Linked DNA regions of Homo sapiens. The protein of the gene in region 1 purifies or fractionates together with the protein of each later gene. This does not show direct contact. Each region holds a gene or a part of one and is shown in the gene's direction. Other genes may lie near its edges.

What was found.
Region 2: the proteins of UBL4B (region 1) and CLMN purify together in Homo sapiens (affinity purification with mass spectrometry; one large-scale study listed by BioGRID and IntAct). This does not show direct contact.

What each region holds. Positions count from the first base shown.
Region 1 is NC_000001.11:110,110,943-110,114,447, forward strand, and holds UBL4B (ubiquitin-like protein 4B), read left to right. Parts: upstream 1-1,500; 5' UTR 1,501-1,592; coding exon 1,593-2,117; 3' UTR 2,118-3,005; downstream 3,006-3,505.
Region 2 is NC_000014.9:95,317,809-95,321,408, reverse strand, and holds the start of CLMN (calmin), read left to right. Parts: upstream 1-1,500; 5' UTR 1,501-1,616; coding exon 1,617-1,698; intron 1,699-1,802; exon of another isoform or gene 1,803-2,148; coding exon of another isoform or gene 2,149-2,170; intron 2,171-3,600.

The sequences.
Region 1 (3,505 bases):
AAATTGTGACAACATATATAAAGGGCTTGACCCAGAAGGCCTTCAGCAATGTGTTGCACTGAAAACTGCCAAATGCTGCAGAAGTTGCAGACACAGAGGAGGCCCAATCAGTGTCCTTTTTCATATTCACCTTTGAGCCGGGGGTGCCTGCTCAGGGCCTGGGCCACAAAAGGCACTGAGCAGAGATTTGTTTAGGAGGCAACATGAGGTAACAGTGAAGACAAGAGCAATTCTGCCTGCTTGCTGTAGGATCAGCCAAGCCTCCACTTTCTCCTCTGGCAGATGGAGATCATGGCAGTGCCTGCCTCATAGGTTGAGAGGATTCAATTAGGCAGGCCTGTGATGCAGATGCTGTGGGCTGTCCTGCCCCATCCCCTCAGCACTCACATTCCTGAGGGCCCGATGGCTTCCTACTTTTCTGTGGTCACAGGAGCATGCTGCTTAACACCTGTGGACCAGAAGTGCCAAGGAGGTAGCACTTCTATTAGCCAAAGACAGGAGTCAGAGCATAAAGATGCAGGTTCGGCCAGGTGCGGTGGCTCACGCCTGTAACCTCAGCACTTTGGGAGGCCAAAGCAGGCAGATTGCTTGTGTCTGGGAGTTTGAGATCAGCCTGGGCAGCATGGAGAAACCCATCTCTACTAAAAATACAAAAATTAGCCAGGCATGGTGGCGTGCAGCTGTAGCCCCAGTTACTTGGGAGGCTGACACAGGAGAATTACTTGAACCCAGGAAACGGAGGTTGCAGTGAGCCGAGATCATGCCACTGCACTCCAGCCTGGGCAACAGAGTGAGACCCTGTCTCAAAAAACAAAAAAAAAAACAAAAAAACCACACCTGGTGCAACTCAGGTGTGTTCCATGCAACCTCCCAGAACTCCCCAGCAGGATAACATACTAGTTGCCCACAATGGCAACCTGCTCATGAATGCACGTTTTGATTTCCCTCCCGTCCTCATCTCACATCCTCACTCCCCTCCTGGTGCCTCCTGGGATCACCTCCTAATTGAGTACTTGTTCTCAAATCCCTGTCTCAGTGTCTGCTGCTGGAAAGCCCAATCCAAAAGAGCGTGTAAAGTGCTTGACAGAAAGAGGACGCTTGATAAATGCTAGCCAGCTCACTAGTGTGAAAGTGTCATGAAGGCAGAAGTCATCCATCTGAATATGACTGTCTCCCCAGGTCCAGGTGCTGGCACAGAGGTGGCACCTAATACACATGTGTTGAAGAAATCAATAGACATGCTCCTCCCACCACCCTGTCCTTTCCCTCCCTCCCTTTCCCTAGTCTCACTCTCATTTCCCCCAGTCCCACATTTTCTTTCCTAGTGCTCTTTTTCTCCTCTCGTGGAGGAAGGATGCTCTGGGCCCAAATACCCCTTTGCTGTCCCAAAAGTTCCACTCTGGAAATGAGCCCCCCCGCAGCATTGTGACATCACCGTGCACTAGCCAATGGCTGCCTGCCTAAGCTGGGTCCCTGGTCTCCTGGGACTACTAGCCCTTTGTTGATAGGGAGAAGCCAACATCTCCCGCAGGACCCCCTAATCTTCAGGGCAGCTCCCAGAGCATGGATCCCTCCTGATTCCACTCAGCCCGATGTTCCTCACAGTCAAGCTGCTCCTGGGCCAGAGATGCAGTCTGAAGGTGTCAGGGCAAGAGAGTGTAGCCACGCTGAAGAGACTGGTGTCCAGGCGGCTGAAGGTGCCTGAGGAGCAGCAGCACCTGCTTTTCCGTGGCCAGCTCCTGGAGGATGACAAGCACCTCTCTGACTACTGCATTGGGCCCAATGCCTCTATCAATGTCATCATGCAGCCCTTGGAGAAGATGGCGCTAAAGGAGGCCCACCAGCCGCAGACCCAGCCCCTGTGGCACCAGCTGGGACTGGTCCTAGCTAAACACTTTGAACCACAGGATGCCAAGGCCGTGCTGCAGCTGCTAAGGCAGGAGCACGAGGAGCGCCTGCAGAAGATAAGCCTGGAGCACCTGGAGCAGCTGGCCCAGTACCTCCTGGCAGAGGAGCCTCACGTGGAGCCAGCTGGAGAGAGGGAGCTTGAGGCGAAGGCACGGCCTCAGAGCTCCTGTGACATGGAGGAGAAGGAGGAGGCAGCAGCTGATCAGTAAACGGGCCATCCTACCCATTTGCATGCTAAAATTCTCCCGGCCTCATCCTTACGTGTTCCCTGGTGACTTTTCCTACTACTTCCTGCTGATGTGGATGCGTCCACACCCCTTTTTGAACCTTCCAAGCAGCTGGAGGGTTTTTGGATCCCTGTCCCCTCTTGGGCCTGAGGTCCTCCCTCTGAAATGCAGAGTGAACCAACCCTCATCACCATGCTTCCCCTAGAAGGGTTCTGATCACCGGAGGGCAGCCCCAAAGGCCACAGTCCCCTCCTGTGCTGGCAGCTTTGCCCACACATACCCAGCAGCTCCCCAGGCTGAAAGCAGCCCTGGCCCAGGGTCTCCATGGTTCTAGGCAGACCCTCTTTCTCCTTCGGGACAGAAAGACAATGTGAGTTCATTTTCCTCCATCCTCAGACCGTGACATCTCCCCTAGGCTCCCCAGCAGCCAAGAGGAGAGGAATGTCAGGTAGCTGCCCCTTGCCTTCTGGGTGAGGCTGCCCCTGCTGTTCTCCTGCTTGTGCTTCCAGCTTAAGGGACAGGCACAGCAGAGGTGAGAGTGGGAGGAGGGCACGTACCGGGTGCCAGCCCTGGAGCCCTCAGGGAGACAGACACAGACCAAGAATAGCAGGAAACTGAGCCTCAGGCAGAAAAAAAGTTCAGCAAAGTCATACACTCCCTGTGGCCAGCGTGAACAGAGCCATGCCCCACCCTCCCAGACTGATCAGTCAGTAGGTATCACAGCTCACATTACCTGCCCAGCGCTGCCCAAGGCTCCCTGGAAGGAAAAATGGTATCTGTCAATGAGGATCCTTGCCCTCACAGAGCACGCAGCCTAGATGCAGAGAGCTGCTATACATGTGAAAAGTAAAGTGGTGACATGAAACTAGAGTCTAGTGTGTGTGACTGAATGCACGGGGCCTCACGGGGCCCTGGGTTCAGCATAGAGGGGCCAGTCCCCTGCAGACTACGAGGAAAGCCAGGCCCTTTACTCTGTTCTTTGAGTGAGAGAGTGGCCCTTGCAGAGGCTGAGGAGTCCCCACACTCTGTGTGTGAGTGGGAGGGAGTGGGGAGCTGTGGTCCCCCATTCACTGCTGAAGCCCCTGAAATGCTGTTATTGCAAAAGTTTCAGTCCTGAGTGATGGGGATGGAGGGAAGGGGTGGAGGAGAATGTCTTGAACAAGCAGGGCCCCCTTCCCTAGGAAGCATCCTGTCCTTGGCCTGCAGGGCCCCTCATCCTCTCTTCCAGTCCGAGTCCAGCTGTGTGGCCATGGGTAACCTGCTTTTCCTGTCTGATGCTCAGGTTTCCCACCTGTTGCATGGGCATCCTTATAACAGCATCTACTTACCCCATGAGTGTTGGTGACGGTTAGAGGCAAAGACTGTCCAAC
Region 2 (3,600 bases), on another chromosome or scaffold:
CCCACCTTTCCCCGCCCAAACTGCTGTCCCTGTGGGGGTTCCTCTCCTCCTTCTGGGCTCAGCTCCAAGGTCAGTCTTTAGAGACCTCTGCTGCCCTCCACCCGCATTCACAGTTCCTTAACCCAAATTGACTTTCTCCTTTCTGGAGTCCACTTTAGAAATCTCCTTTCCTTGTTTAAGGGCCACACGATAGCCCCTGCCCCAATGGATGACTGGAGGGTAGACTCACCCTCCTTCAGGGCCCTGCCTCAAGGGCACAGGTCTGTCCTTCGGGGGACCTCCATAGTTACTGGGTAATTAGTGAGCAGCCGGGTTTCCGGGATTCATTGCTGTGAACAGAGCAGCGATGCACACAGGCCCATGTGTTTAAATGCCCAGTGAGCCCTGTCCATTTTTTTCCCCCTCTTGGAACACTGAATATTTAAAGCCATTTTCTTTGTGGCCTTAGTTGTCACAGAAAGGGCCCAAGCACTGAGCTGGGAGCAGGGGGCTGGGACTTCCTGCTCCTAAGTCATTCCTCAACCTTGGGCAAATTCGGTAACTGTAGGGTCTCACTTTTAAGGAGTGTAAACCACATGGTGGGCACCAAACAGGATAAGATCCTGGAATTCTCTAGAGTTCAACAGTGGAGGTGGGGAGGGAGGGGACCGGAAGGCCTGTCCTGGCATTTTCAGTAGTCTCCACAGGAAGTTCTGTCCTGGCATTTTCACTAATTTCCAGTGACCCCACAGAGGGTCACTTGGAGACTCAGTGGCCAGAGACCCCACAGCGTACCCCAGCTCCTAGGAGTTGGCCTGCTTCTTGTTCCTTCCTAGAAGCTGGAGTCACATTACTGGACCGGAAAAGGCTCCTAGTATCTAAACCAACGAAGAAGGCCCTTCTTTCACAGCCCCCCCGCACTTTGGAGACTCCCACAACTTTACCTCCACACTAGTTTGCCCCCCGACCCAGGCCCTCGACACTCCCCACGCAGGGCTCCCAGGATTCGGGGATGGGCAGGGCTCGGGTCCTGGTCCCTCCAAGTGGGGGCTGCCTCTCCAGAGTGGACAGGGGACCCGCGGAGGGGGTGTCTTATCCCGGACGGGAGGGAGACGCTGCCTCCTGGACCAGGTACTGGGACCCACGGGCCCACCCCCAGTTGCGTCACCCGGCCCACCGCCCCCTGAGACATCACAATCTGGGGGCCGGGACCCGCGCCTCATCACAGCCGGTTTGTAACCAAACAATCCAACCTACAAACACCCCGGAAAGAAAAAAAACACAAGCTGGCCTGACCCAGCCTCCCGCCCCTGCCCCGCCCCGCCCCGCCCCTCGCCCCTCGCCCCTCGCTCCTCAGGGCCCCCGCCCCCGCACGGGGGAGTGAGAGCGAGCCCGCCGCCCCGCACCCGCCGCCCCGCGCTCGCTCGCGCCAGCCCGCGGCGGGGGCGGCCCCGACCGCGCCGCCCGCCCCTCCCCGCCCCGCCCCGCCCCGCCCGCGCCCGCGCCCCGCCCGCGCCCGCCGCGACTCCAGCTCCGCGGCGCCCTCGCCGGGTGCGTGCCGCTCGCGCGCCCGCCAGCCAGGCTCTCCGCGCCCGCCGCCCGCGCCGCGCTGGCCCGGGCTCTCCCGCCCGCGCTTCATGGCTGCACACGAGTGGGACTGGTTCCAACGCGAGGAGCTCATCGGGCAGATTAGCGACATCCGAGTGCAGAACCTGCAAGGTAACGCAGCCCAGGCTCGCCCCGGGATGGCTGGGCGCTCGGGGGGCCCGGGGCGCCGCTCCGACACTTGGCAACTCCCCCGCGCCGCCCCCGCTCGCCGGCCGCTCGTTGTTCCTGTCACTTGCCTCGAGGTGGGAGGCTGGGGTTGGATACCCGCCCCCAAGCCCCAGGGCGGCCAGCCGCGGCCAGGTTTACAGTTGCCCAGGGGGTGGGGCGCCACACGTGTGTGTGTTGTGGGGCGAGGGCTCGCATTTTCATTAGGGGGACGTCACCACCCCCTCCAGTCACCGCTGCGAGTTTGGAGAAGTTTGTACGTGGGCTCTTGGGGGCGGTGGCCCAGGTTAGGGAGGGGAGGAGACAGTGCGACTCTGTGTGTGTGTGTGTGTGTGTGTGTGTGTGTGTGTGTGAGTTCGCGCACTTCCTAAGTACCTTCGAGGCAAGGGGAATTGAATGGTGGGCGGCGCTTCAGGGGGTGAGTTGGGGAAAGCGGGGCCAGGGGTGCGGATCGGATCGGTGGGGTCAGGCAAGCACCCAACTCCAGCGGCCACTTTGCTTAGGGAGCTGCCCCTCCCCTGCAGGATCAGGACTCTAACTGGGGAGAGGGCGAGAGCCCCACCCTTCCCCCACGCTGGCCCCCAACTCCGACCCTGCCTGGGCACAGGACACTGGGACCAAGGCTTCTACCTGGGAGGTAGCTGAGAAGAGGTGAAAGAGAAACTCCAGTGGTGGAGAGCGGCTGGGTATGGCGGTGCCACACATGAAGTGTGTTTCTCTTTCAAAAGAATTTATTCAATGTGGAAACTTAGAAAGCACAAAAATATTTGAAGGAAAAAAGTCACCCATAATTTCCCCTCCACAACCTATCCACCCAACAGACAGGTGTTCTTCATGGAACTGTATCTCCAGCTTCTTTTTTTTCATATATGGGCTTTGCAGAACTAGACAGAACACCACTTCCGGCCCTTCTTCACCCACATTGACCTGTGCAGGTGAAGTTTCTGTAGCTGCTTCCCCTGCTGGCTTGGGTTTCTAGAGGGTTCAAGGTTAGGAGTGGCTAGGAGCGAGCTGGGAGGCCTGGGCAGAGAGGCGATGGGGCTGTGGGTGCCCTCCCCCAGCCAGGGCAGCGACTTTACTGTTATAGGGTAGGGAGCCCCAGCGCTGGGGGATGGCCGAGCAGTCAAGTTTAAACATTACACCTGATTGAATGTTTCCTGGGAGCCCAGGGTCTGCCCCACCCCTAGGTTGGGCAAGGACAGTGCCGGCAGAGGTGACCTCAAAAGGACTGGGGAGCCTCCTGGGGTGGACACTGGAAACTGAGTTTGCTCTGGGCCGCTCTGATCTCTTCTGGCTGTGATTTGTGTTAAAGGAGGAGGCTTGGGCTGGGATGTTGAAAGTGATCTCTTTTGATAATAAGCCAAGTGCCTGGATCCTGTTGCCTGAGAAGAACTGACATCCTGTTTGGGGGTGGGCATTAGTGTCTTCTGCTGGACTGTGAGGGTGTGAGTGTGTGTACCTGTCTGTCTTAGGCAACCATTGAGTGTTTAATAAGCACATACTAACCAATGCTTCGTGCAACAAGTTCCTGCATTCCTCTAGGATTAGCTCCTGGTTTAGAGAAGATTGATTGTTGTGAAGAGATGCCCCGCAATATGAACATTAGGTTACAACCAGAACGGTGGGAGAAGGCTTTACAGAATAGGGACAATTTGAGATGGGTCCTGGAGGTTGGGTAGGAGTTCACTGAGTAGGCTCCTCTCCCTCAGCTCCCAGTGAACTGTCCTCACTTTTAGGCAAACATCAGTTACAATTTAAGCATCAACAGGCTTTGCCATTAAAAAAATAAATTTTTAAATGTATGTATATGTTTAAATGTGCACTTATTAAGTTCAACAAAACTTTATG